Regions from separate parts of the Homo sapiens genome. Here all the other regions are linked to region 1. Evidence: fine-mapped expression QTL. A gene starts in region 1. Each other region holds a variant in brackets. All regions are shown on one strand. Distances are between the middles of the regions. Region 1 holds the start of GPAT3 (glycerol-3-phosphate acyltransferase 3). Region 2 has its middle 78 kb from the start of GPAT3. Region 3 has its middle 12 kb from the start of ABRAXAS1. Region 4 has its middle 110 kb from the start of GPAT3.

Evidence for each region.
Region 2: its variant is fine-mapped to the expression of GPAT3 in whole blood (INTERVAL, PIP above 0.99).
Region 3: its variant is fine-mapped to the expression of GPAT3 in whole blood (TOPMed, PIP above 0.99).
Region 4: its variant is fine-mapped to the expression of GPAT3 in whole blood (TOPMed, PIP above 0.99).

What each region holds. Positions count from the first base shown.
Region 1 is chr4:83,532,125-83,539,918 of GRCh38, reverse strand. It overlaps GPAT3 (glycerol-3-phosphate acyltransferase 3), which reads right to left and starts at 3,811. Exons shown (of 12, transcript NM_032717.5): 1 at 3,156-3,811. The coding sequence starts at 3,296.
Region 2 is chr4:83,610,357-83,618,150 of GRCh38, reverse strand. No RefSeq gene overlaps it. Among named protein-coding and RNA genes, the nearest start is that of GPAT3, 78 kb to the right of the region's middle. RefSeq lists an enhancer at 1-48. The variant T/C (reference allele first, on the strand shown) is at 4,185.
Region 3 is chr4:83,492,831-83,500,624 of GRCh38, reverse strand. No RefSeq gene overlaps it. Among named protein-coding and RNA genes, the nearest start is that of ABRAXAS1, 12 kb to the right of the region's middle. The variant A/G (reference allele first, on the strand shown) is at 3,452.
Region 4 is chr4:83,641,730-83,649,523 of GRCh38, reverse strand. No RefSeq gene overlaps it. Among named protein-coding and RNA genes, the nearest start is that of GPAT3, 110 kb to the right of the region's middle. The variant C/A (reference allele first, on the strand shown) is at 4,650.

The DNA.
Region 1 (7,794 bases):
CCCAAAGTGCTGGGATTACAGGCGTGAGCCACCGCACCTGGCCAAGTTTTACTCTTCATAATTTGTATTCCTAAAACAATTTTCTCGACTATAAAGCTGTAATATTAACATACGTATCCAACAAATTATCATATATCCCTTGAAAATCACTGGCTTGGAGAATCACTAAACTTATTCCAAGCTAAGTATTCAAGGCTTATCCTCAAGTATCTTGCCATATCAGTGACTTACGCATACATCTAGAGATACCCAGCAATGCAGAAGAAAATAGAAGTAGGTGCTCAATAAATGATAATTACTTGAACCAGTGGGTTAAGAAGGAGTCAGAGAAGAGCATAAAGTTCAGTGAGTTAACAAGTAACAATTACCAAAATCAGCAATTTAGAGGGTACCCTACACACATTTCAACTTCTAGAATTTGAGTTTATTGTCATGAGAAAGTCACCCATTGACAGTAAAACTTGTCAAAGTAAACATATAATAGACAAAACTAAATGATCTTTTTAAATGGTACATAAATTATAAGCAAAGAAACTTGAGAAATATCCAATTATGATCAGAGCCCAAAGAATATTCTTGGGAATGAAATGTAAAGAAAAATACAACTAAATCAATTAAGAATTTACCAAGGAGTGATACAAGGGCTAGGCCTTGAATGCAATCTACAGAAAGGCAGGGTATTTGGCCAGCACTGAAGATGTTCTAATGCTAAACATCAGCATAATCCCTTAAGGAATTATTCCTATAGTTGAGAAAAGCAATCCACCGTATTAACCCCAGTCTAACAGAAATGTCTTTGAAACATCTAACACTGTTCTAGTTGAAGGATAGAGGATCCTGGGTTACTGTTCTCCTGCACCTAAAGCAGAAATCACTATGGGATCACAGCTCTCTTTCCTGATGAGCTCAGATGCTCCCAAACATAGGAGTTCCAGGCAGCCGCAACCAACAAATCAGAGCTGGCTCACACAATGAATCTGTATTCAAATTCCACATATATCAAGCATCTCTTTGACCTAATAACTTAGTCTCAGCAGACAGGGTGGGTTCCTGATGTGTCACCTACCTGGTTTCCAAGTTATCTGGTTTCTCCCACCAGAATTAGAAAACTGGCATTCTTGTCAGTTTGATTGACAAGGAGTTCAGCTCTGGAGTTATCCAGAAGGACAAAAATTAAAATCTCTGGCCTGTCAAACTGAAAGTCAGATCCTGGACTGGAGATCATCCTATCAGGTATAATAATTTGCCAGGCTGACAGCAACTAGCTGGCCTCCGTCCTTAGCTGACCTTGAGTTACTAAAGAAAAACAGACAGAAGTGAGCCCCTGGAAGCCAGTGGGTGTGATTTACCTTTACACCATTCTTACACAGGGTATAAATTCCAAAAGACATTGCTGTATGAGAGAGCAGTTCAATCATTTCAGAGTTCAGAGAAAGAGGGAACACCAGCTGAAGAGGATCATCTGCTATGGGAGAGGATTCTGAAGATCTCACATTAGGAAGCAGTCAAGAAATTCACAGCATAATGTGACCAAGCTCAGAATGTAAAGTCAATAAGAAGAGTTCAAAACTGAGAAATAGCTCCCAAGTAGAAACAGTAGAACTTTAAAAACATGAGCACTGAGGATGAAGAATCACATACAACTTCAAAGTCTAGGCAAAGAAATAGCCACAAACAAGAGTCTAGGGCAATACAGGAGGCTAGCAAGTACAAGACAATGTCCAGTGGGTTAGAGATGTATACCTGGGAGCCACCCAATTAGCTGAGAAAGAAGAGCAGATAAAGCCACGTCCTAAGGGCAGAGAGAAAACAGGTCACAAAAATGGGAACCAAACTTATTAGAAGGCACTGTGGAATGCCAGAATCTCAGTAATCATATTATTCTTTTAATAGCAACAAGCATTCATACAGTAGGTGCAGGCAGCCTTCTAAGGTGCTTGATACCTTTTAACTCATTTGAACAACCCTATGGAAATAGGAGTTATTGTTACTCCTATTTTATAGATACAGAAAATGAGGCACAAGAGTAGATGACCTCCCTAAGGTCACATTTTGAGAAACAGAGCTACAATTTTGGTACCAAATCTAAGCAAACCTGTATCCAGGGTCCCTAATCCTAACCACTAGGCTGCAGGGCCTCTTCTCAGTTGAGATGCCTGTTTCTGGCCAGGCGTGGGGCTCACACCTTTAATCCCAGCACTTTGGGAGGTGACGGCAGGAAGATTGCTTGAGGCCAGGAGTTCAAGACCAGCCTAGCCAAGATAGCAAGACCCTGTCTCTTATGTTAAATATACACACACACACACACACACACACACACACACACATATTATACATATAATTAAATTTTTTTTTAAAAAAAGACTCCTGCTTCTAACACTTAATTCAAAGAAACCACTGATCTCTGACTCTCAGTTTCCCTCTCTGTAAAAGGGGGTTGGCACTTGCCCTCCCTACCCTACCCAGCCTTTTGACACTTAATAAAACCCTAAGAGTAAGCTGCAGTTGTTCTCTACCAGGCCTACTTCCATCTAACATTTTTCTTTGCAGGATTTGGAAACAGGAGGGTAGGGAGACCTGAGGTCAAAGAATATATACCTTTTCAATGGCATTTCAAGTGCTGTTGGTTAGATAAAATTTCCATGACTCCACTAAAATAAAATAAGATTTCTTTCTGCCATCCAGCAATTGGTCTCTTATCTTGGGCATAAAGAAGAACATGATGCCTTTCTGAACTGGATGCCTTAGTACACAAAAGGACCTCTGAAACCTGGGGCTGTAAAAACAAGCGGGTGAAGCGGAAACTGCACTGCATAATGGATATAAGCAAATCCTCTGATACAAAAAGTTGGTCGCATTGTTGTTATTCTAATCAGTAAAATAATAACGATGCTCAGGGAGTGGAATGATTTTTTCGCCTTCGACCAGAGAAACAACAGAGTGGTCCAGTGGTTCCAGCCTAGATCCCTCCAGCTCCGCGAAAGAAGCCGAGATGCTGACTTTCGCACTGCTGCGGGCAAGGAACAGAAATGCACGCACGCATGCACACGCGCGCACACACACCCCTGACTCGCGACCACTGACCTTGAGAACTGGACCCCCGGGTTCTCAGCCCGCAGCGGTGTGGGGCTGGCTGCATCCCTCCCGGCACTCACCTCTAAAGTTTTCACTAGGATCTTCATGTAGATCTCGGAGATGCCCAGAGACACTCCGAAGACCGAAGGTAAAAGGATGAAGCCGAGAACCAGCGTCAGCCAGGTGGAAAGGATCTTCCCGGCCAGCTCTGCGCCCTCCATGACTCGGCGCACCCACTCAGGAGAGGTCCGCAGTGGAGGGCCGAGCGCCACAGCAGTCCCTGTCCCCAGGCAGTCCCGCGGGAGCTCCAGGAGCAGAGCGCCGAGCCCGGCACTCACCTCTGCGAAGGGAAGAGAGGAAGGAAAAAAACTTTCAGAATTACGGCAATATCCTTCCTTCCTCCCTGGGCTCCTCCTCGCCCCTGCCAGTTAACTCTTTCTCCGCTGGCTGCCCAGGTCTGGGCTGAAGCCACCGCGGCGTGCGGAGACCTGGGTAGCGCGAGCCAGTGGTCGGAGCTGCGGGTAAGCGGAGGCACACCGCGGCGCGGGCAGAGCGCGCGAGCGCAGCCAGGAACCCGCCCCGCCCGGTGCCTGATTTCCTCTGGGTGGCGATTGCGACAACTCAGCAGATGACTCACGGAGGCCCTCCCCGAGCCAGGTTCCCTGCGGGAGCACCGCACTTTGGCACACCGGTCGCCGGCGGAGCTGGCACCGGGCCGCGGGCTGTGCTGGAAGCTGGCTGCGCTCGGGCGCCCAGCGCCCTATTTCTGCGCGCTGCCCTCGCCCCACCTCCTCCGTCACCCAACGGGGGAGCTCCCTGGCAGTACTTAGCCCAGGAGTGCCGCAGCCTCCTGGGCGGTCTCCGTTCTTCCCCGCGCCCCGCCTCCCCCAGCACTCAGCAAAGGTCCTTTCAGGAGGAGAGTTTTCATCTGAAAAATGTCAATATTTTCTTCACCCGCAGAATGAACTGCTGACGTATCTGGGACGCTTGAGGTCTTGTTTGTGTGGGTGTAAAACGAACTCTTGGAAAGGGCTTCCAAGGACAGGAAAACGCAGAGCGCACCACGCAGCCGTGTACGCCGCTTCTGGCTTCCACACCTCCTTCCCCACATGGCCTACAGCTGTGGGGCTCAATCTTGCTTATCCCGAGAGTAGGAAGCTCTCTCCACGCGTTGCCTAGCCCACTGAGCCGCCATCTCCCTGGCACAGAAACCCTGCGGCTAAGTATCTGTCACTCCCTTTCTGGGGGAAGATTCCAACCACACCTTCCCCTACCATTCAGCCAATACTATCCGCGCTTAGGCGTAGCAGAAATGCCAGGCCGGCGCAAGCCTTCATTCACCAAGCTGACAGGTGTCTCCTGGGTGTTCAGGCTCCGCGCTTCTACCGCGCCAGCCCTTATCAGAGCAACGAAGGGCAAAACCCTGTATGTTATTTACTACATTGCTGTTCTCTTAGAGACCAGAACTATTTTTAAGAATGAGCAGAAGGGATTTTGAGAAGGGATTTTCCAGATTGCCGCTGAATTCGACCAAAATCTCTTACAGGTACTTTTCAGGTGTTGTTTCAAGCTGGAAAAAAACTGAGAGGGCCAGCAAACTGAATTGAAACAGCGCTGATAGCAAATATTGCAGAGAAAATGGTCCCTGCCCAGGGTGTGGAGGAAGTGGGGAGCCAACGAAGTGACAAGCCCCTCTGTAAAGAATGTAGATGTCTGCCTTAAGTACTTACTGCCAGGTAGCTGTCACAAGCCCCCTCCCACACTAAGAACGGAAAAAATTATAACTTGATGATTAAAACCAGGTTATGGACCGGGCGCGGTGGCTCACGCCTGTAATCCCAGCACTCTGGGAGGCGAGGCGGGCAGATCATCTGAGGTTAGGAGTTCAACACCAGCCTGGCCAACATGGCGAAACCCCCGTCTCTACTAAAAATACAAAAAAATTAGCCCCGCGTGGTGTCGCACGCCTGTAGTCCCAGCTACTCAGGAGGCTGAGGCAGGAGAATCACTTGAACCCGGGAGGAGGAGGTTGCAGTGAGCCGAGATCGTGCCACTGCACTGCAGCCTGGGAGACAGAGTGAGACTCAGTCTAAAAAAAAAAAAAAAGGGTTATGAATGAAGAAGTGTTAGGAGCTTGGTTTCTCAAAATTAAACCTCTGTAAGGTTGGCTAGTTTAGAAAAACACGGAAAACGCAACTACCGAAAGCTGCCCAAAGTCCTTGCTTTCAAACACTATATATATTGAGTGCAAAACTTCAAATATTATATTGGCATATTTAACACCATATGTTCAGGCAAAACTCTTATTTTCCTTTTATTTCCTCAAACCAAGATAACTAAGGAAGGCTAAATCCTTGTACCAAAGTTTACCCCACAAGGGAGATAATACACACAACTTTGCGTGTGCTGAGTGCACACACTCTCCAGTGATTTTTGGTGCTCATGAACAAACTCCACAAAATGGTTTTGGTTTGGTTTTGTTTTAACTGTTACGGAAGAATTATTCGTCCACAGCTGTATGGTGCAATGGTAATAAAATGGAATTTGGAGTCTTCGATTGAGAGCAGCACGAACACATATAAGTTTGAGCAAGTGCTTCTGTGCTTCACCTTTCTCATCAGGAAGATGGGTTCTTCTCAGGGTTGAAAGTGATTGTGAGCATGAAACTGCATGGTAAATGACAAAGCTCTATGCAGAGATCAGCAGGCAGCCTGGTGCAAGGGCAAAAACTCTTCATCTTTTTCTTGCCTAAAAGGCAGGAGAGCCAACACAGGCTCCCCAGGGTAACAAAGGCTCATCTTTGCAGTGATGGAGGAGGGTGAGGGAAGAGAAGAAATGTAGGGTGATCCTGACCCTGTCTCAAGTCGGGGAAAGTTGGTCCCGACTTGCCGCTCTCCTTGTCTCTCTTTCACTCTCCTCACCTCTCCTCCCTCCTCCATTCCTTGAGACTTAAACCTAGGTAGGAACCTACTTTCTCCGTCCCTGAAGTCAAGACCCCCTTTACTTACTGTATTTGTTTCCTAGGGATGCCTTCACAAATCACCACAAATTTAAGGACTTAACACAACAGAAATTGATTCTCTCAGTTCTGGAGACCAGAAGTGTGAAATCAAGGTGTCTGTCTGTAAGGTCACACTCCCTCCAAAAACTGTAGAGGAGAATCTTCCAGCTTCTGGTGGATCCCAGCATTCTTTGGTTTGTGGCAGCACACACATCTCTGCCTCAGTCTTCACATGACCTTCCTGTCTCTTCTTCCCATCTTTTCTTTTACAAAGACACATTATTCTGGATTTAGGGCCCACCCTCATCCAGGATGATCTAATCTTGAGATTCTTCCCTGAATTAAACTTAATCTGCAAAGACCCTTTTTCCAAATAAGGTCATATCCATAGTTAGGGGTGTTAGGACTTGGACATACCTTTTGGGGAAGGTGCAATTCAACCCGTTATAATTACCATCTCTGTAAAATGAGGATAATAACACCTACCTGCAGAGGTTGTTATTGGGATTGGAGAGTATGTATTAAATGGTAGTTGATAGTCAATGCTTAGTAATGAATTTATCCATAATCCTGTTTTTTTACCTATTAATCCAGGCATGTATATATATACATGCCTCCCCAAAAGATATGTCCAAGTCCTAACACCCGTAACTATGAATATATATACACACCTGTATATATATACACTTACACACCTGTGTGTATATGTACACATATATATACATACATATGTGTATATATGTGTATATATATGCATATATATACACATATGTATATATATGTGTGTATATATATATACACACAAACAGCTGATCTCTACATATATATGTATGTACAGGTGTGTATGTATATATATATACAGGAGTGTGTGTATATATACACATATACATATATACATATATAATACACACATATTATATATATTATATGTACACACGTATACTATATATACAGTATATACATACAGTATATATACATACATTGTATATATACTGTATGTATAGTATGTATGTATATATACACATATATAGTGTATATATAAGTGTGTATATACATATAGTATACTGTATATATATACATACTGTATATATGCAAAGCTCTATGCAGAGATCAGCAGGCAGCCTGGTGCAAGGGCAAAAACTCTCCATCTTTTTCTTGCCTTAATCTGCAAAGACCCTTTTTCCAAATAAGGTCATATCCATAGCGGGGAGATCACCTGCCTCGGCCTCCCAAAGTGCTAGGATTATAGGCTACGTGTATGTGTGTGTGTGTATACATATATATATATATATATATTTTTTTTTTTTTTCATGACAGCCTCAGGAGGTCCTGACGACATGTACCCTACTGCACTCCAGCCTGGGCAACAGAAGAAGACCCTGTATAAAAAGCAAAAAAAAAACCCATTGAGGTCCAGCTAAGTGTATGGATATCAAAGCAAAAATAATTGATTCCAAACAGCTGCCCTTACCTGTTAACTCATTGTGTTATTCAAGTCTTCTTCAAGCCTCTGCTTTTACAGCAATTGTGGCCAATGTGAACAGAATTTAGGCTAAAAAACTTTGAGCAGTTGTCAATATTGTCATGAATAGAAGCCTATGGCAAATAATACGTCATAGCTGAAGCCAAACAAAGACTATTCGTTCAATTTAAAAGGTATGGTAGAACTCAGAAGTCTGGGGGTGAAGCAGACTTTTGAAGTACTTTATTCAACAGAC
Region 2 (7,794 bases), 78 kb before region 1:
TTCTCAAAAAAGTTTAAATTCACCTATTTGTATAAGAAATATATATATTTCACCTTGAGAGGAGACTAACTGGTTCTGCTCTTTGAGCTATCCACTCCCTGATCACAGCTTTAGAGGGCAAACGGATTTGAAATGTTTTAGGTCACCAAGATAGAGTATACATTTTTTATTCTCAGAGTTTTCCAAGACATCTTTTCCGGACACAGAGCCAAGAGGCCAGCAAGTAGCCAGAATTACTATATGCGTCTCACAACAGCAGGGAGTGCTCATAGCAGGAATTTATGACCATGGAGGGCCATCAAAAGCCTTGATGGGATCCTCAGCCTAGGCTGTAACACGTGCAGCCTGAAAACTCACCACCCACCCACAATGCCAAGAACACCAATGACCTGGTGGCTTCTTTCAGCTGACTTCCTGCTGTCGGGTTTTTGTATTCTCCACCAACACCAAAATCTTCCAGTTTTCCCTGTGTTAGTCCAGATCTCCTATAAATCACTTTATCTTACAAAACCTTTCAGCATTTAATTTGCAAATGAACAGTAATGATTCTAAAGGAGAGGCTTTTCTCCTTATATTTAAATAATGGCTTTAACCTAGAGTAAAACACTCAGAGAAACTTCTTTTTAAATTTAAAGTTGTCTCCTTCTAGAACTTTTATTTTTTGCAACAAGAACTCACTCTCTTCCTATATGATAAAAGAAAATGATTTTGAATGCTTCTGTAACTAGCAAGAAAGTTAGGACTACTCAAGTCAGAGACTAAAGGAAGATCGATTCCCAGAGGAAAAAGCAGAGCAGAGAGCCCAGCAGTTGTCATTTACTTTGCAGGCATTGGCTGAACCAGGCAAACTCTAGCATTGGTTTCTAGAGCCTTAAGGGCCTAAGGGACAAAAAACAAAATTGAAGTCCTGCCCAAGATGGAAAGTCTAACTACAGTCTTCCTTTGAAGGTGAAATATCAAAGGACTATAACCTCTGTGTAACAGTAAAGTAGAAAGGGCCAGGTGCAGTGGCTCATGCCTGCAATCCCAGCACTTTGGGAGGCCGAGGCGGGCGGATCACCTGAGGTCAAGAGTTCGAGACCAGCCGGACCACATGGAGAAACCCCATCTCTACCCAAAAAAAATACAAAATTAGCCAGGCATGGTGGCGCACACCTGTAATCACAGCTACTCTGGAGGCTGAGGCAGGAGAATCGCTTGAACCCGGGAGGCAGAGGTTCCGGTAAGCCGAGATCACGCCATTGCACTCCAGCCTGGGCAACAAGAGCGAAACTCCATCTCAAAAAAAAAAAAAAAGAAAAGAAAAAAAAAAGAAATAATCCATCCTCCAATCTCAAATGTAAGCAAGGCAAATTGCTTGTGTCAAACCTTACTGATAAGTGAAAGGGAAAAATAACTTTCCCCTAAAGATTTAAAACTACTTGGCAATTAAAAAGAATGAATTACTTATAAATACAATGTGGATTTATCTAAAAATAGTACACAGATCATTCAAAACCACAATGGCTCACCTTTGGATTTACAGACTGAATTCTCACTATTTCCATAGCCCGATAACCTCAAGCCAACAATATAGTTTAAAGTAGTACCAGATTGATAGTGCCCTAGAGCTGGGGTGGGCAACCATATCAGATGAAGAAGCAGATAGTAAACATTTTAGGCTTTGTGGGCCATGCAGGTCACTATAGCAACTACTCAACTTTGCTTTTGTCATGCAAAAGCAGCTATAGGCAATATATAAACAAATGCTGTCTTGCAATAAAATTGTATTTACAAAAACAGACAGAGGGCAGGATTTGGCCTACAAGCTTTGGTTTGCTGATCCCTGCTCTCCAGGTCTAAGAGAGGATAAAATTCCAAAGATGATAATTATTAAAATTCTCTAAACACACAAAGACTCTATGAACAAGAAGCAGCAGAAAAGATAGACCCAGACCCTCAAAAGATATAAGATTTTGGAGTTGTTGGGAAAAACATAAAATCAATAAGCATAAGGTACTTCAAAACTATGTGAGAGTAATCACATTTGAAAAAGAATTAGATATAACTCTTACAAATGAGAAATAAGGCTGGGCGCAGTGGCTCATGCCTGTAATCCTAACACTTTGGGAGGCTGAAGCAGGCAGATCACCTGAGGTCAGGAGTTCGAGACCAGTCTGGTCAATATGGTGAAACCCTGTCTCTACTGAAAATACAAAAAAAAATAGCTGGGAGTGGTGGTGCATGCCTGTAATCCCAGCTACTCAGGAGGCTGAGGCAGGAGAATCGCTTGAACCCAGGAGGCAGAGATTGCAGTGAGCCAAGATTGTGCCACTGCACTCCAGCCTGGATGACAGACGGAGACTCAGTCTCATAAAAAAAACAAAGGGAAATAAAGGACATCAACAAAATGGTTAACTAGAGTTGCCTGGCACATATCCCTCCCAACAAAAAACAACCAAAACAACAAATAACAACTAACATTCAACTGTAGTGTCTGAGGGACAGCACTGGAGTGCAGAAAGGGACTGGTGAAATCCCTGTGGAGCACAGAAGCCCAGGATGTCAGCAAAAAGAGGGGAGCAAGGCACCCTGCCCCTGCCACCCCATCTCTCCCATTGAGATTGGCTCAGATCCAGGAGGGACTTCTCCATATGGGAAAAAGGTAAGCAGAAGGCCCCCACATGCCTGAACTGCCACTGCAGATTCCTGTAGTACTTACTATAGAAGAATCCCACAGTCCTCAAAAGCCCTTAGCCCAGTTTGCGGAGCTGCTTGGAATTAACATAGCTGCGTTACTCCAGAGTAGGAACACAAGGTGTGCACTCCCCACCCCAATCAACCCCAGTGAGCCAAGCTACTGCAGGACTGTGCCATCTTGAAACTGGAACCACTGCTAGAGTCCACCCTGCTCTGGGGTCCAGCAGCCACTGCATGTCTCCAGCCTTGAGTCTCTGCCATTATTTTACCAAGTCCACACAGGTGGCTGCAATACCACAACGCTGTCTGCTTGGAGCATGGGGCCAGGAACAGCCATGACTTCAGCATTGCACAGCAGGAAAGCCAACCCTTGGCTGGCTGAACTAAATAGTCCAATGGACCTTCCCCCAGAAAGTCCCCCTTCTTGGCACTCACTACCAAAGAAACAGCCTGACAAACCTGCCCCTGAGACAAGCCACCGAACTACTGCACATCCATGTCCCAGCTGGAGAAGCAACAAGGTGAACCCACCTCCAGCAGAAACATTCCTGGTGGACCCACTCCCAGGTCCACCAAGCATCTGTATCCCTGCACCCATGGCCAGCGAAACTGCATGGAAAATTCACCCCCAGCAAGCCAGTCACCAAACCAACCAACCCACTGCACACTTATGCCTCTGGCCAGAGAAAAAGCTCAATGGTCCCATCCCCGCAAAGATGCACCACTGCCACCATAGATTCTCACAGCCTAGGCCACTGAGGTACTCACAAAGATCATTAATGTGGATTATAGCCAAAGAATCTTAACAGGTTAACAGACTACACTACTGTGTCCACCCAGAACCAAGGCCAACTCAACTTACCCATTGACACCATATGACTCACCTACAGGAATGACTCTCCCTACCAAAGGTACTCCATAAAATTGGAAGAGGCAATTGTTTCAGCAGATACACAGGTATCAACATAGAGATACAAGAAAATGAAAATGCAAGGAAACATGACACTTCCAAAAGAACATAATAATTCTCCAATACCAGCTCCCCCACCAAAAACAATTTACAAGATGCCAAAAAAGAAATTCAAAATAATGAGTTTAAGAAAACTTGGTGAGATGCAAGAGGATACATATAGACAATTCAACAAAATCAGGAAAACACTTCGTGATCTGAATAGGAAATTTAACAAAGAGATAGATAGAATAAAAGAAACAAACAGAAATCTTGGAGCTTAAGAACTCAATGAATGAAATAAGAAATACAACCGAGACCTTCAACAAAAGACCAGAGCAAGCAGAAGAATTTCTAAACTTGAAGACAGGTCTTTTGATATGACCCAGGCAGACAACAACAAAAACAAAAGAATAAAACAGAATGAAGAAAGACTACAGGATTTACAGGGCATCATAAAGCAAAATAAAAATTCACATTATGAGAATTTCAAAAGGAGAAGTGTGTAAGTCCATTTCGCGTTGCTGTAAATAAATACCTGCGGCTGGGTCTTTTA[T/C]AAAGAAAAGGGGTTTATTGCTGTACAAGAAGCATGATACCTGCATCTACTTTTGGTGACAACCTCAAGAAGCTTTTACTAATGGTGGAAGGCAAAGGGTGCCAGCATGTCACATGGTGAGAGAGGGAGCAAAAAAGCAATGGGAGGAGTGCCATGCCTTAAACAACCAGCTCTTGTATGAACTAATAGAGTAAGAACTCATCCATTACCATGGGAAGGGGACCAAGCCATCATTCATTACCATGGGAAGGGGACGAAGCCATTCATGAGGGATCACCCCCACTAACCAGACAACTTCCAATAGGCGCCACCTCCAACATTAGTGGGGATGGGTCACATTTCAACATAAAATTTGGGGAAGACAAATATCCAAACTATAGCAAGAAGAGATGGGAAAATACATAGAAAACCTATTTCATAAATTAATAGCTGAAAACTTCCAAGGTCTTGGGAGGGATAGAGACATCCAGATCCAAGGAACTCAGAGATTCCCAAATAGATTCAACCCAAAAAGGTCCTCTGCAAGGTGCATATAGTCAAACTGTCAAAAGTCAAAGACAAAGAGAATTCTAAAAACAACAAGAGAAAAATATCAAGTCACATACAAGGGAATTTCCATTAGACTAATAGCATAGTTATTGGCAGAAACCTTACAGGGCAAAGAGAATGAGGCAACATAGTTAAAGTGCATTAAGAAAAAAAAAAAACTGCCAGCCAAGAATACTATACCCAGGAAAGCTATCCTTGAAAAATGAAGTCCACAAACCCTTTCCCAGAAAAGCAAAAACTGAGAGAATTCATCAACACTAGGCTTGCCTTAAAGTAAATGCTTAAGGGAGTTCTACATCTGGCAGCAAAAGAACAATAACTAGCATCATGAAAACACATGAAAGAACATGAAAGCATAAAACTCACTGATACACCAGACATACAAAGGAGAAAGAGAAATAAATCAAATCTTATCACCACATAAAACCACTAAACTTCAAAGATAAATGATAAGAGAGAAAGAAAAGAACAGGGGCTATACAAAGCAATTAGAAAATGATTGACAAGATGACAGGAATAAAGTCCTCACCTGTCAATAATAATCTTGAACTTAAACAGATTAAATCCCCTAATCAAAAGATATACACTGGCTGAATGGATTTTTTTAAATGACCCAACCATATACTGTCTACAAGAAACTCACTTCACCTGTAAAATACACATAAATCAAAAGTGAAGGGATAGAAAAAGATATTCTACACAGAAACCAAAAGTGGGCAGGAATAGCTATAGTTATATCTGATAAAATAGGCATTAGGTAAAAAAACTATTTTAAAAAAAGGGACAAAGGGCCAGCCATGGTGGCTCATGCCTGTAATCCCAGCACTTTGGGAGGCTGAGGCAGGTGGATCATGAGGTCAGGAGATCAAGACCATCCTGGTCAACATGGTGAAACCCCGTCTCTACTAAAAATACAAAAATTAACTGGGCATGGTGGCGCGTGCCTGTAATCCCAGCTACTCAGGAAGCTGAGGCAGGAGAATCGCTTGAATCTGGGAGTCAAAGGTTGCAATCAGCCAAGCGCACCGCTGCACACCAGCCTGGCAACAGAGCGAGACTCCGTCTAAAAAAAAAAAAAGAAGGTTATTATTTACTGATAAATGGATAAATTTTGCAACAGGATATAACAATTATAAATGTATATGTACCCAACCCTAGAGTACCCAGATATATAAAGCAAATATTATTAGATCTAAAAGGAGAGATAGGCTCCAATAAAATAGTAGTTGGGGACTTCAAGACCCCACTCTCAGCGTTGAAGAGATCATCTAGGCAGAAAATCAACAAAGAAACATCCAATTTAAACATACTACAACCAAAAGACTTAACAGACATTAAGAACATTTCATTCAACAGCTGTAAAATACATATTCTTCTCATCAGCACATGGAACATTCTCTATGACTGACCATGCATTAGGCCACAAAAAAAGTCTCAACAGATTTTTAAAAACCAAAATCTCATCTAGTATCTGTTCTGACCGCAATGGAATAAAACTAAAAATCAACAACAAGAGGAACTTTAGAAGCTGTACAAATACATGGAAATGAAACAACATGCACCTGAATGACCAATGAGTGAATGATGAAATTAAGGAGAAAATTTAAAAATTTATTTAAACAAATAAAAGTGGAAACACAACACCCAAAACCTATAGGATACAGCAAAAGCAGTATTAAGAGGGAAGTTTACATCAGTAAACACATACATCAAAAAAAGTAGAAAGATTTCAAATAAATAACAATGCACCCCAAGGAACTAGAAAAGCAAGAACAAACCAAACCCAAAATTAGTAGAAGAAAATAATAATATCAGAGCAAATATAAATGAAATTAAGACCAAAAAAATGCAAAAAAAAAAGATGAAACAAAAAGCTGCTTTTTTGAAACAATAAACAAAATTTGAAAAGGAATAGCTAGACTAAGAAAAAAGAGAAAAAACCCAAATATATAAAATCAGAAGTGAAAAAAAAGACATTACAACTGATAGCACAGAAATACAAAGGATCATTAGAAACTATTATGAACAACTCTACTTCCTAATTTCTGTTAGAAAAACCTAACAGAAATGGATAAATTTCTGGACACATACCACCTACCAAGACTGAACCAAGAAGAAATGAAAAACCTGAACAGAATAATTACAAGTAACCAGACTGAACCAGTAATAAAACATCTCCCAATAAAGAAAAGACCAGGCACAAATGACTTCACTCCTGAATCCTACAAAATTATTTAAAAAGAACTAATTTCACTGCTTCTCAAACTATTCCAAAAAGTTAAAATGGAGAGAATTCTTCCAAAATCATTGTATGAGGCCAGCATTGCTCTGATAATACAACCGGACAAAGTCACAATAAAAAATAGAAAAGTATAGGCCAAAATATCTGATTAACAAAGATCCAAAAATCCTCAACAAATACTAGCAAACCAAATTCAACAGCACATAAAAAATATACACCATGATCAAGTTGGATTTATCCCAGGAATGCAAAGATGGCTCAATATATGCAAATTCATAAATGTGATACATCACATCAACAGAATGAAAAACAAAAACCATATGATTCTTGAACAAAAAGAACAAAGCTGTAGGCATCACACTACCTGACTTCAAAATATGCTACAAAACTATATTAACCAAAACAGCTTGATATTGGCATAAAAAGAAAAATAGACCAATGAAACAGAATAGACAATGCAGAAATAAATCCATGTATTTAAAGCCAACTGATTTTTTACAAAGGTGCCAAAAACATTCAATGAGAAAAAGGACAGTATCTTCAATAAATGGTACTGGAAAAACTAGATATCCATGTGCAGAAAAATGAGACTAGATCCTTAGTATAAAAATCAATTCAACACAGATTAAAGACTTAAATGAAAAACCCAAAACAATGAAACTACTAGAAGAAAATAGAGGGAATGTTTCAGGACATTGGTCTTCTTTAAAAACCCAAAACTATGAAACTACTAGAAGAAAATAGGAGAAATGCTTCAGGACATTGTTCTGAGCAAAAAATTTATGAATTAGACCTTAAAAGCACAGGAAACAAAAGCAA
Region 3 (7,794 bases), 39 kb after region 1:
AACTTCCCAGGCATGCGCATTAAGAGACAAAATGGTGGAGTATGACCCTCCAAGAAAACACCACCAAAAAAGGGGAGAAAGCTTCAGATGGGCATGTGTACAACTTCCTAAACACGTGCACCCAAAGATAAGGAGGGCGCTGTGTGTGTAGGCAGCCCATCCTAAGGGAAGAGTCATGGGAAAGCCAGCCTATAAAGTTCCAGGGTCAAGGTTAAACACCACACTTGATCTCAGTGCCTGCTTGGGTCTCTTACAAGCCTACTCTCCTTTTCTTTCTTTCCTGTTCTAAAGCCTTTTAAATAAACTTCCACTCCTGCTCTGAAATTTGTTTCGGTCTCCTTTTCTGCCTTATACCTCTCAGTTGAATTCTTTCTTCTGAGGAGGTAAGAATTGAAGTTGCTGCAGACCCATACAGATTTGCCACCAGTAACTCAGATACCTTCCACCAGTAACATAATGGCCTCCAGCTCCATCCGTATTCTTGCAAAGGACATGCTCTCATCAATGGAAGACTAGATAAAGAAAATGTGGTACATATACTCCATGGAATACTATGCAGCCCTTGTAGTTTTGCATTACTCTTAGCTTTCCGTATCTGTAAAGCATTCAGTAAAGCTACATCAATTGTCAGGCCATGAGCCATCCAGCTTCTTTCTCTTTGGAGACCAGATGTCCCAAATTATCATCACAGTCTCATGGATTAAGAACAGCAGATAGCTGGGCACAGTGGCCCATGCCTGTAAACCCAGAACTTTGGGAGGCCAAGGTGGGAGGATCACTTGAAGCCAGGAGTTCCAGACCAGCCTGGGCAACACACCAAGACCCCATGTCTACAAAAAAAAATTTTTTTAATTAGCTGACTAGTGGTGGATGTCTATAGTCTAGCCACTCAGGAGACTGAAAAATACATAAATGGCCAGGTACGGTGGCTCATGCCTGTAACCCTAGCACTTTGGGAGGCTGAGGCGGGTGGATCGTCTGAGCTCAGGAGTTCTCGACCAGCCTGGGCAACACAGTGAAACCCCGTCTCTGCTGAAAAATACAAAAAATTAGCCGGGCGTGGCAGCATGTGCCTGTAATCCCGGCTACTGGGGAGGCGGAGACAGAAGAATCACTTGAACCCGGGAGGCAGGGGTTGCAGTGAGCCGAGATCGCACCATTGCACTCCAGCCTGGGTGGCAGAGCGCGTCTCCATCTCAAAAACAAACAAACCAACAAAAAAAAACCATAAACATTTAGTCTGGGTGCAGTGGCTCACGCCTGTAATCCCAGCACTTTGAGAGGCCAAGCCTGGCAGATTACTTGACATCAGGAGTTAAGACCAGCCTGGCCAACATGGCAAAACCCTGACTCGCCTAAAAATACAAAAATGAGCTGGGCATGGGGGTGCATGCCTTTAATGCTGGCTACTCGGGAGGCTGAGGCACGATAATTGCTTGGACCTGGGAGGTATAGGTTGCAGTGAGCTGAGATTGTGCCAGTGCATTTCAGCCTGGGTGACAGAGCAAGACTGTCTCAAAAAAATAAAAATAAACATTTACACAAGATATTTTAGTTTTCTCTTGCTTCATAAAAAAAAAATCACTCTAAAATTTAGTAGCTTAAAATAACAATGATCTATTATTTCTCTTGATTCTGTAGGTTGACTGAATTTAGCTGGGTGGTTCTTCCACTCCACTTGTTGTATTTGAAGTCACTCATGAGGCTATGTTCAGCCCGAAGCACACCTGGGGCCAAACCATTCCAGAGAAGCTCATCTTCTAGAGTGTCTCTCCACATGGCTCTCATCATTCAGTGGTCTGGCCTGAGCTTTTGTACAGCACAGTGGCTGACTTCAAAGATGTTGAAGGTGGAAGCTTCCAGAACACTTAAAGCCTAAGTGTGGAAGTGGCAGAGTCACACAGGATGCATTGTATTGATTAAAGGAAGTCACCAGGCCACCTCAGTTAAAAGGAAGGGAAAATAGACTACTTGATGGGAGAAGCAGCATGAGTGCATAGGGTAGGAGAAATTGTTGATGGCCATGTTTGCAGACAAACTACCACACACAGTAATATATAAGATCATTATATGTATTTCCTCTCTGTCTCTTTAAACAGCTATCAAAGAATTTGTCCTTATTTTATTGTTTTTTAACTTTTCAGCATGAACCCACAGGACATAGAGAGTCCATTTTCCTTCTTTTTTTCCTTCTTTCTCTCTCTCTCTTTTTCTTTCTTCCCTTTTTCTTTCTTTCTTTCCTTTTTCTTTCTTTCCCTCTCTTCTTTCTTTCTCTCTCTCCTCTCCTCTTTTCTTTTCCTTCTTTTTCTCCAAGAGACAAGTTTTTGCTCCATTGCCCAGGCTGTAGTACAGTGGTACAGTCATAGCTCACTGTAGCCTCTTAACTCCTATGCTCAAGCAATCTTCCTGCTCCGGCCTCCTGAAGTGGTAGGATTAGGGTGTAAGCCACTGCACCTAGCCTAATTGTCACATCTAAATGCAGTAACTTTTCCACAACTTTGTGAAGGTAGCAATTTATTTTGAAATAAAATTTACATAGCCCAGATCCTCTCTCAGTTGTGTTTGCAGCTGCTCAGCCATCTCTTTCTGGTATCAATGCCACCTCTAGCTTGCTGAGCTCCAGGCAAAAGGCAGGGGGCTGGTAAGGAACAAGTTTTCTATACCACAGCTCTTTCTAAGCTGATTGCCTGCAAATCAAGCAGGGAGTGAAGAAATCTTATCACTACAGGCCTGGCACTCTGGCATTCCTTGAAACCAGACATTGTTAGAAGTTCACTAAACTTTTATTTTTCAAATGTCTCATCCAGCATCTGGTGTGAGAAATTGTGTAGGACTTTAACACTGATCTTGGAGTTTCCAGAGTATAGCTTTTGGTGCTTGAAGGAGGCACGTGAAGCCTATCTGACTGCCCTATTTGAAGTTACTAACTAGTATGTGATCCTAGTATAATAATTATGAAAAAAGACATCCAGCCATTCCCTAGTATATATACAAAAAGAGCTTAAAATCCACTGTGATCAGGTGCATCTCATTCTCAAACAAAACAAAACATGTTTGTCTTCCCTGTTATTATTTATTCTGACCATTAGATATTTGGTGGGGGCAGGGAGAGAAGTTAAAAGGTATCTAAATATATTATTGTTACATTAGACTGGGTGGCTTAAAAAACAGAAATGTACTTTCTCACAGTTCTGGAAGCTCTAAGTTCAAAATCAATATGTCACCAGGCTTGGTTCTACGAATAAGACCTCAAAAGCACAGACAACAGAAGCAAAAATAAACAAATGGGATTATATCAAACTAAAAATCTTCTGCACGGCAGAGGAAACAATCAAGAGAGTGAAAAGACAACCTACAGGATCAGAGAAAATATTTTCAGACTACTCATCCCACAGGGGATTAATATCCAGAAGATACAAAGAGTTCAAACATCTCAATAGCAAAAAACAAA[A/G]CAAGAAAACGTCTGATTATAAAGTAGGCAAATGATCTTAACAGAAAGTTAAATACCGCATATTCTCACTCACATGTGGAAGCTAAAAAAAGTTGATCTAATAGAAGTAAAATGTGGAACCAGAGGATATTAGAGACTGGGAAGGGGAGGATAGGTAGAGATTTGCTAAAGAATACAAAATTACAGCTAGATAGGAGGATAAGTTCTAGTGCTCTGCAGCATTGCAGGTTGCTTATAATTAACAATAATGCGTTGTATAGTTTCAAATAGCTAGAAGAGAGGATATTGAATGTTGCTCTGTGTGTGTGTGTTTGTGTGGGTGTGTGTGTGTGTTTTAAGATGGAGTTTTGCTCTGTCACTTAGGCTGGAGGGCAGTGGTGCAATCTTGGCTTACTGCAACCTCCACATCCCCGGTTCAAGCAATTTTAGTGCCTCAGCCTCCCAAGTAGCTGGGATTACAGGTGTGCACCACCATGCCCAGCTAATTTTTGTATTTTCAGTAGAGATGGGGTTTCACCATGTTGTCCAGGCTGGTCTCAAACTCCTGACCTCAGGTGATCCCCCAGCCTCCGCCTCCCAAAGTACTGGGATTACAGGCGTGAGCCACTACGCCTGGCAGGATATTTGCTAGAGCAGGAGCACCGTCATCTCGGACAAACACCACCACTTTAAGTTCCAGCTCCCTTTCTAGCCTCATGCATTTCAAGGAAATCACTTCTCTTCTAACTACAAGCAGCCAGAAAGAGCAGACAGTAAAACACAGATAAGACCGCTTGGAAACAGAGGGAGGTGAGGAGAAAGTCTCTTGGGTAACTGCCAAACTTCACCCTCATACAATGGGCCCCAGTAAGACAGTGGGCCTTAATAAGCACTTTTCTTTCCCTTCAGGAATACTAAGATAGAGAAGCTAAAAGCAGACTTGGGGGATATGCCTGCAGCTGCAAAAAGGTGTATGGGAATAGAAACGCAACTGTCCCTCCCAGATAAGCACAACAAAGAGACACAGAAGCAGTCCAAGCCTCTTATAAACTCTCCTATCCTGAATCTTTAGAAACTCTTAGTCTGTTAGAGAGTGTGGCTCTGACCTAACTCAGCCAACCGCCCTTCTCAGGTTTATTTAAAATAAACCTGCCCCTGTTGACTGAAAAGCCATCCTTTGTGTTTCTCTCCTCTTTCTTTAATTCTTACAATATTAAATGTTGTCAACACAAAGAAATGATAAATCTTTGAAATTACCAATATGCTAATTACCCTGATCTGATCACTATGCATTGTTTGTATTAAAACATTATGTAGGGCCGAGCGCCGTGGCTCACTCCTGTAATCCCAGCACTTTTAGAGGTTAGGCGGGCAGATCACGAGGTCAGGAGATTGAGACCATCCTGGCCAACACAGTGAAATACCGTCTCTACTAAAAATACGAAAAATTAGCCGGGCGCGATGGCGGGCCCCTGTAGTCCCAGCTACTCGGAAGTCTGAGGCAGGAGAATGGCGTGAACCCGGGAGGTGGAGCTTGCAGTGAGCCAAGATTGCATCACTGCACTCCGGCCTGGGCAAAAGAGCGAGACTCCGTCCCCCCCAAAAAAAAAAAACATTACGTAGCCCATGAATGTATACAATTATTATTTTTTAAAAAACGAAAAAAACATGTAATATTGACAGCAACTAATTAGATGAGTTTTGTAGCATTTTTAGCTTCTATCCATTCAGTATTCTTTTTTTTAGACAGAGTCTGGCTCTGTCACCCAGTCTGGAGTGCAGTGGAGCGATCTTGGCTCACAGCAACCTCTGCCTCCTGGGTTCAAGCAATTCTCCCGCCTCAGCCTCCCTAGTAGCTGGGATTACAGGAGTGTGCCACCATACCAGGCTAATTTTCGTATTTTTAATAGAGATGGGGTTTCACTGTGTTGACCAGGCTGGTCTCGAACTCCTGACCTCAACTGATCTTCCCACCTCGGCCTCCCAAAGTGCTGGGATTACAGGCGTGAGCCACCACATCCAGCCCATTCAGTATCTTTTTATAATTAAATTTAATTTTTTTAAGTATGTTTTTTATATATATGTTTATACATATTATATATGTGTTTATATATTTTATATATGTTTATATATAAAACATAAATATATATTTATATATAAAAATATAAAAACTATATATAAAATATATATAAACATATAATGTATAAACATGTTTATATATTTTTTAAATATTTATATATAATTTATATATATTTATATATAAATATACTTATAAAAATTATATATAATTTATACATATTTATATATAAATATACTTATAAAAATTATATATAATTTTTAAAAATATATATATAAATATATTTATAAAAATTATATATAATTTTTAAAAATATTTATATATAAACATATATATCAACATATATAAAAAATATATATAAACATGTTTATATATATATATACATGTTTATATATATATATATATATATATATATATATATATATATATATTTTTTTTTTTTTTAGACAGAGTCTCACTCCGTTGCCCAGGCTGGAATGCAGTGGTGCAATCTCAGCTCACTGCAACCTCTGCCTCCCAGGCTTAAGCGATTCTCGTGCCTCAGCCTCTGGAGTAGCTGGGATTACAGGCGCCTGACACCATGCCTGGCTAATTTTTGTATTTTTAATAGAGATGGGGTTTCACCATGTTAGTGAGGCTGGTCTCCAACTCCTGGCCTCGGCCTCCCAAAGTGCTAGGATTACAGGCCTGGGCCACCGGCCATTTCCACAATGTTGTTTTTTTTTTTTTTTTTTGAGATTGAGTCTTGCTCTGTCGCCCAGGCTGGAGTGCAGTGGCGTGATCTCAGCTCGCTGCGACCTCCACCTCCTGGGTTCAAGCAATTCTCTTGCCTCAGCCTCCTGAGTAGCTGGGACTACAGGTGCATGCCACCACACCCAGGTAATTTTTTGTATTTTTAGTAGAGACAGGGTTTCACCATGTTAGCCAGGATGGTCTCAGTCTCCTGACCTTGTGATCCGCCCACCTCGGCCTCCCAAAGTGCTGGGATTACAGGCGTGAGCCACCACGCATGGCCTTTTTTTTCTTTCTTTCTTTCTTTCTTTCTTTCTTTCTTTCTTTCTTTCTTTCTTTTCTTTTTTTTTTCTTTTTTTTTTTGAGACACAGTCTTGCTCTGTCTCCCAGGCTAGAGGGCAGTGGCACGATCTCGGCTCACTGCAACCTCTGCTTCCTGGGTTCAAGTGACTCTCCTGCCTCAGCCTCCCAAGTAGCTGGGATTACAGATGCCTGCCACCACTCTCGGCTAATTTTTTGTATTTTTAGTAGAGACAGGGTTTTGCCACATTGGCCAGGCTAGTATCAAACTCCTGACCTCAGGTGATCCACTCGCCTTGGCCTCCCAAAGGGCTGAGATTACAGGTGTGAGCCACCGCACCTGGCTGTTTCCACTCTTTTAAGATAAATTCTGGGCCCGGCGTGTTGGCTTACACCTGTAATCCCAACATTTTGGGAGGCTAAGGTGGGACGATTGCTGGAGCCCAGGAGTTGGAGATCAGCCTGGGAAACATGGCGAAATCCTATTGCTACAAAAATTAGCCTGGTGTGGTGTTGCATGCTTGTAGTCCCAACTGCTCAGGAGGCTGAAGGGGCAGAAACACCTGAACCCAGGGAGGTTGAGGCTGCAGCGAACCATGATCGTGCCACTGCACCACAGCCTGGACAACAAAGTGAAACCTTGTTTCAAAACCAAAAAGACAAATTCTAAAATCCTATGCTACAACAGCCAGCATGGTCTGGCCCTTCTCACTAGCCAGCTTTTACCTCCTGCCTCCCTCCCTCTCACACTCCAGGTTTTAGAATCTTCTAATTGCCTCAGGGTGTTCACACATGGTGTTCCTTTAACTGAGAACACTCCTCCCCACTTCTTTTCCTTTTCCCAAGTATCCAGGTCCTTGAGAAGACTTTCTCTGATCCCAGCAATAGGGGAGTGGGTATCTCAGTTACCCTTGCTTCTAGTTTTCTATTTTTCCTACTACGTATTTATTAGAATCGTAATTATGTCATCATATGAGAGATGATGTATGTAATTTTCCTTTCCCCCACTGGATTATAAATACTATTAGGGCAGGCACTATCTCTATTTTGTTATTCAATGTACCTCCAGCAACTAGCACAGTGCCTGATGTAAAGCAGGCAGTCAATAGCTGTGAATTCATGACCATAAGGAAAGTGGAAAGCAAGATTTTTGCCCTTTAAGAGATGAGAATTTTCCTAGGGAAAGAAAAAAAAATCCAGGAAACACTTAGCTGTGCCCAACTATGCCCAGCAGTTCAATAATTAAGAACCAAAA
Region 4 (7,794 bases), 110 kb before region 1:
TCATATATATTTCTCAAAAATATATATATCATATACATTTCTCAAAAATATATATATCATATACATTTCTCAAAAATATATATATCATATATATTTCTCAAAAATATATATATCATATATATTTCTCAAAAATATATATATCATATATATTTCTCAAAAATATATATATCATATATTTCTCAAAAATATATATATCATATATATTTCTCAAAAATATATATCATATATATTTCTCAAAAATATATATTATATATTTCTCAAAAATATATTTATTATATATATTTCTCAAAAATATATATAATACATATTTCTCAAAAATATATATAATATACATTTCTCAAAAAATATATATTATATATTTCTCAAAAATATATATATTATATATATTTCTCAAAAATATATATATTATGTATATTTCTCAAAAATATATATATTATGTATATTTCTCAAAAATATATATATTATATATATTTCTCAAAAATATATATATTATATATTTCTCAAAAATATATATATTATATATATTTCTCAAAAATATATATATAGAGAGAGAGACAGAGTCTCACTCTGTCATCCAGGCTGGAGTGCAATAGCATGATCTCAGCTCACTACAACCGCTGCCTCCCGGGTTCAAGCAATTCTCCTGCCTCAGTGATCCCAAGTAGCTGGGATCACAGATGCGTGCCACCGCGCCCGGCTAATTTTTTGTATTTTTAGTAGAGAAGGGATTTCACCATGTTGGCAGGCTGGTCTTGAACTCCTGACCTCAAGTGATCTGCCCATCTCGGCCTCCCAAAGTTCTGGGATTACAGGCGTGAGACACCGCGCCCAGCCCCGAAACATATTTATTGACATATTTTGAAATACCCCTGCAAAGCCATCTTTTGTAGGAGAAGTTTGCATCTGTAGAGAATCTCCATCAATGCAGCCAGACCTTCCTTTTCCAGGCCTTCTAGGCTCAGCTGACTTCAAGTCTTTAGACAAAGCTGAAGTTTTTCAACCACGTGTCAATCGGAAAAGTCTTTGAATCCACCTGTGGCCTGTAAGCACCACCCCCTATTCAAGATTTCCCACCTTTTTGGGCCAAACCAATACGTACCTCCCATGTATTGATTTTATGTCTTTGCCCGTAACTCCTGGTCTCCCTAAAATGTATAAAACCAAACTGTAACTCAACCACCTCAGGCACACTTTCTCAGGACCTCTTGATACAGTTCCCCAGGCCACGGTCACTCATATTGGCTCAGAATATACCTCTTTAAGTGTTTTACAGAGTCTTTCATGAACAGGAATATTCATTCCCATTCTATCTCTGATTGTTAATACTTGACCACATTTTGTTTCCCCAACTCTTCGGCTGTTTTGACAGTGGTAGAAAGATCACCTGTCAAGCATTGCTTACAGTATCCAAATACAGGAAGTGGCATTCCCTTTTCATCAGTGAAGCATCTGGGTGTCTCTACCCAGATCCAGAGCCATAGGAGCAGCTCCAAACCTTCTGGGTCCCCCAGGAGAGAGTCCACAGTCACTCATCCAGTGCTCAGAGCCTGCCAGAGTAGAGGTATCAGCTGGGTCATCCATCACCAGGATAGGAGGTGCAACAGGCGTCAGCTTGTTTCTACACGGGCTATTACAACATCTCTAGGCCCCATATCCATTGCAGATTGCCCCTAATTTGAGAACTCAAGGTAAATCTTAAATCTTTGCTTGAGCTGAAAACCAAAATTCAAGCTAAAATTAACAGTAAAACCTGCAGTAATTCTGAATAATGATGGTCTCTGTAACAATACAGCACCAGAAATTAAATACTAAAAACCTATTTGAAACAACAGCTCTGTGGCCCACTTTGATGGACACAAAATAACGCTTTTGTTGTTTGTATGAAGTAACATTAAAGAGGAAAAGGGGAATACAAAATGGCATTGTTAGGACAATGTAATCGATTGGTTATCATGATGCAGAATATTTATATGTACATTAGTAAAGATAGAAGATTATTTTGAGTAATAAAGTGGTTTAATAATTATTTTTGGTAAATCTGTTTACATTTGGAAAGAAATTTGAATGGAAGAGAGAGATGTGCAGAAAGAGTTAATATAACTTTAAATGGAACTGGTTTTAAACAAGTGACTCTGTGCTGCTGTCCCACAAAATGCTCCCTTAGAAACCTCTGGCATCCCTCAGGGTCAAACGTGCATAACTTAGTGACCATTTCATCCTCTGAATCCGTAGGTGCCACCCTAGTCACACATTACACTATCACCTTTAACTTTGTCATTCTTCACTCTGCCTAGACCAGAGCAGACTTTTAGAGAATCAAAAGTACAGCCCCACTGGAAATGAGTAAAACCCTACCCCCCAAATAAATGTTTGGTCAGATGGTGTTATCCATCAGAGCTGAAGGGACATGAGGCTAGTGAAGAGAAGATTCTGGGCTTTATGTTAATGCTGACCTTCTCTGGAGCAACGTGGTCTCTTTAGCTTCCACACATGTCTAATCACTAGGGAGTTGTCTAGCTACACGAATTTTTCACATTTGTCAGCTAAATCAGCGCTCCAAATGCACAATGCAGCACTTAGAAACATTATGTGAATTTATTAAATTCTCTGGAGGACTTTGGGTCCATAAAGCAGTAAATTGATTACAGAGAACTGAGGCCATAATATTTTCATCAGCAGCAAAAGCTGCTGTGCTCCCATATTGTGCATGGCATATGAAGAGAAGCTGTTCCTCACTTCACTTGAGCTGGCAGGCTGAGAATCACACAGGAAACAAGGGGAAGGCTCTGGAATGCATCAAAATGATGCGTCATTTAATCAGTTTCTTTCAGAACGCCAGCTTTCAGGTACGCCTCTTATAAGAAAACTAAGGAAAAATATAAATAGCCTCTTCCTGCTTTGGATTTGCCTATGAATGCTTTCAGAATTAGCCCTCATGATCATAGCTGTTCATTGACTTTACCATGAAAGAGCGTATTGACATTATTATCAAAATAAGGGGCATTAGTAGCAGGTCAGGAGGAAACGATGGGTCTGTGTTGATGACATGGCTTGGATACTAAACATGCTTACATGTGGTTTGATGATCACATAACTGATGACCAATATCCCCTCCAAAGAAGGAAGGGAGAATCCTAACACTTTCTAGGATGCCCACCATGCCAGGAATTATTATAGGTGCTTTTCCATAGATTATCCTATTTCAAACTTTGCAACAATCTTAAGAGCTAGGAATGATAATTCCTGTTTTTAAGGGAGAAAGCCAAGGCTTAGTAAATTGCCCAAAATCACACGGCTGAAAAATTAGGTTGGAATCCAGACCAGGACTGTGTGTTTCCAAAGACACCCTTGTTCTTTGACCCCATTTCAAAATCTTTGATGTTCGTGTCTTCTAAAAGATTTCACTCCCCAGAAAGTAATTGGATAGCTTTCTGCTGCTGCATGGGAAAACTTTTGTCGTCTCAAATGTTTCTGGAGGGAGAGGAAGGGGTAAATCTCGGGGCAGTCGTGTTAGTGTCCTGGCACTAGAGCTGTCATTTTAGAACCTGCGAGAAGACTAGAATATTCTAGGCTAGTCCTAGAATATTATTTTGGCCATTTCACTGTGTCTTTGAGCCTTCTTCGGGCATCCTGGAAAAGGGAGTGATTATGACATTTAGGTATGATGAATGATAATCCTTTTTAAATCTATTAACTGGATTTTGATAAACATCTAAAATGACCGTAGTTCTTCCCTCTGCATTGAAAGGAGTGATGCAAGAGGAATAACCAGTGTGTTGGCAATTCTTACTTCTTGGTTGCCTCCAGACTAAACAAGGTCTTCGTATAGAGGAGCAGAGACCTTGCTACAGGAAGACCATGGAGGCAGGGAACAACCACTCCTCTCCTTGCACCACAGCTCTTGGACTGAGTTCTTTGGCTGTGATGGAAAAGAAGCAGTGTCTCTATAAGGCCTAAAAACCCCTGGCTAAAGGCTAATCTCAAAGGGAGGGCTCTGTCTTACTAAAATTTGTGGATTCCCAGTGCTTGGCAGACTGCCTGGTACACAGTAGACCCCCAGTAAGTGTTTATTAGATTCAATTGAAATATTAAGACAGCTCAGCAGTTTGTCAAGTTATAAATGCAGGAGTATGAGAATTACTTTGTGAGCTGTTTTTAAATATAGTAATTTGTGAGCATAATTGTATTTCATATGTGGTAATTCACAAAGTTAAGCCCAGCACTTCCCAGTTCATCTTAAAGCTATCTATTCAAGCAACTCTTGACTCTATAACAAAAACTATCCACTATCCATTATATCTGAATTTTTCTCAGCATATGTGCCCATCCAGAATAGTATTTCAAAACTGGAATTATCCAGGCCACACTGGAGCATATAATCAACTTGGAATTAGCCATTTTTTTCTTTTTTATTATTTCTTCCCCATATTGGCTGCAGTTGTATGAATTACAGATTTTATCTCCCTCAGACTTTTTTGCTTATGGAGTGGGGTGACTGATTTTGGTGCTTTCTCTTTTATTGCCTGTCTGACGTTAAAAATCCTATCAACCGTTCGGAAACTAATCTAATTCATTTCGAGAATAATGTTGTGAACTCTATTTACAGAATCCAAAGCCATAAAGCTTCTAATGCTACGTGAAACAGCACC[C/A]CCTACTGGCAATGTTGTCACATTACATCATCATATCCTCAGCACTGAAATCCATCTCTCTCCTGTTGAGAAACTTTGACAAGTAACTTCACAAACAGAACCTATTTAAAATACTTCAAATAGAACAAATCTCTTACTCTGTTTTACCTTCATGGAAACTATTCCTTGATAACAATTTTTGCTAAGAAAGGAAAATATGTGATCTCCCTTTTTCTAGGACCATAAAGTTGTAAAAGGCAAGTTTATTTCAAACTTAACATCAGGTGGGTCCAAACCATGCACTTCATGTCTCTGTGTTTCAGCAGTACAATTCTTTGTATAGCAAATGTACTTTCTTACAAAACACCAAAACTAGCTTTAAAAATAATTGCATATGATTTTTTCACTGTGACCATTTATTCATTCCCGACCACAGCATTCATTCAACAAGTAATTTTTTTTTTTTTTTGAGATGGAGTCTCACTCTGTTGCCCAGGCTGGAGTGCAGTGGTGTGATCTCAGCTCACTGCAACCTCTGCCTCCTGGCTTCAAGCGATTATCTTGCCTCAGCCTCCCAAGTAGATGGGATTACAGACACGTGCCACCACGCCCGACTAAAATATATATATATATATTTTGTATTTTTTGTGGAGACAGGGTTTCACCATGTTGGCCAGGCTGATCTTGAACTCCTGACCTCAAGTGATTTGCCTGCCTCTGCCTCCCAAATTGCTGGGGTTAGAGGCGTGAGCCTCTGCACCCGGCTACATTTAACAAATATTTACTGATCATCTAGGCTTGAGAATACCACAGTGAATAGCATGCATCTGGTCCCTGCCCACATAGAGCTTACAGCTGAGGTGACAGAATAAACCCATCCAATGCTGGATTTGACTAAGGAAACATCTGTGGAATCACAGAGCAAGGGTACTAGCATAGCCAACGGGAATTCAGAGAACCTTATCGCTGGCACTGTGAGTGCCCCAACCATTCCCCAGGACACACTGAAAGTTACTTGGCGCTTCAGTAGATTGTTCTCATCTTATTCTTGGTTTCCCGCATCAAACACCTGCATTTCTCTGGCCGAGGACTTCTGCTAGCGACAAAATGGGCAAGCTAAAAGTACCAGGGAATTAAGCAACCCTCAGCCAGTGAGGGACAGGAGTTGGTGGATAGACACCCTAGCTCCCTTGCCCTTCAATAGATAATTCTGAAGTGTATTCCACTCAGGCTCTTAGAAAGTCCCTGGCCAGGCACAGTGGCTCACACCTGTAATCCCAGCACTTTGGGAGGCCGAGGCGGGCGGATCATGAGGTCAGGAGTTTGAGACCAGTCTGGCCAACACAGTGAACCCTGTCTCTACTAAAAATACAAAAATTAGCAGGGTGTGGTGGTGTGTGCCTGTAATCCCAGCTACTCAAGAGGATGAGACAGGAGAATCACGTGAACCAGGAGGCAGAGGTTGCAGTGAGCTGAGATTGCGCCACTGCACTCCAGCCCAGGTGACAGTGCGAGATTCAGGACAGAAAGGAAGAAGAAAAGAAAAGAAAAGAAAAGAAAAGAGAGAGAAGGAAGGAAGGAAGGAAGGAAGGAAGGAAGGAAGGAAGGAAGGAAGGAAAGGGAAGGAAAGGAAGGAAAGGAAGGAAAGGAAAGGAAGGAAGTCCCCAGTAGAATGTGCACAATTCATTGTTAACAGGACTGCTGGGATTTCAACAGGCTTGGTAAATGACATTCATCTTTCTCACAAATGTTGTGAGGCAATTAAGAAATCCGACCAAAGAATAAGGCAGCTAGGAGAATAGATATCACATTGTTAATATTGAAAAATGAGGCTACGTCTCTAGGCAAGTAGATCACATTGCACTCAAGAATTAAACTGCTGGTCTTTTTAAATTTTTATTTATTTTTTTGAGACCTGGTTATAAGACTGGCTAATTTTTGTATTTTTCGTAGAGATGGAGTTTCACCATGTTGCCGAGGCTGGTCTCAAAATCCTGAGCTCAAGCAATCCATCTCCCTCAGCTTCCCAAAGTGCTTAGATTACAGGCGTGGGCCACCGCACCCAGCCACTGCTTATCTTTTGAATCCCAAGCACCACTGGACTGGGCAAGCCTCTGAAAAACAGGGCCTGCCTGGTGCATTTATGACAAGGATGATCAGAGTGGAATGCAAGCTTCCAGAAGACAGGCTCCTCCCAAGAGAAAAAGGGAAGAGGCTGAGCCATTTGGTCAGTTATTCCTTCCACATTCACCAGTCAGATAAGTGACGTATCTTCCAGAAAGGAGCAAGGAAGGGGCATAAAAACACCAAGGAAGGGACCTAGAGAAGACACTATGTCTGAGCCTAAGAGGAACACACATCATCCAGAAATCCTAGACTAGTGGAGCTCCCTCCACAAGAATAAAACCTCAACAGTGGGAAAAAGGGTCCCCACCACCACACACTCCATCCCATGTCAAAACTTTAAGAGAGTTTTGCTAGTCCAGTGATTCCCTCATACCACCATTCAACATAGTAAATAAAAACAACATCTTTTGTAATTTCCATACTGTCAACACTCTTTCTGAGTGACACTGGTCCCCAATTAAGACAGCAGTAATCAATTATATGAACAAACAATAATCAATTATATGAACAATAATCAAGTCTCTATAGCATTAATAAATGGATTTTAGCCATGTAGTGCCTACTTTTAAAAGGCACTTAAGAAAGGCTTCACTTTTTTCTAATTATTCTTTCAACATGTATATAGCCCTTACTATATGCTAATACGGTGACATATTTATTTAACACTCACAATGACCTTACAAGTTGAGTACTAGTACAAGTTGAGTACCACTACTTAAATGAGAAAACTAAGAAAGCTAAGACTCTTGCTGAAGGTCACAGAGCTAATAAGAGTGAAGCCAGGAGTAAACATTGGTGACTTTTCTTTTTTTTTTTGAGACAGAGTTTCGCTCTTATTGCCCAGGCTAAAGTGCAATGGCGCAATCTCGACTTACCACAACCTCCGCCTCCCAGGTTCAAGCGATTCTCCTGCCTCAGCCTCCCGAGTAGCTGAGATTACAGGCGCACCACCACCATGCCCAGCTAATTTTGTATTTTCAGTAGAGACGAGGTTTCTCCATGTTGGTCAGGCTGGTCTCAAACTCCCGACCTCAGGTGA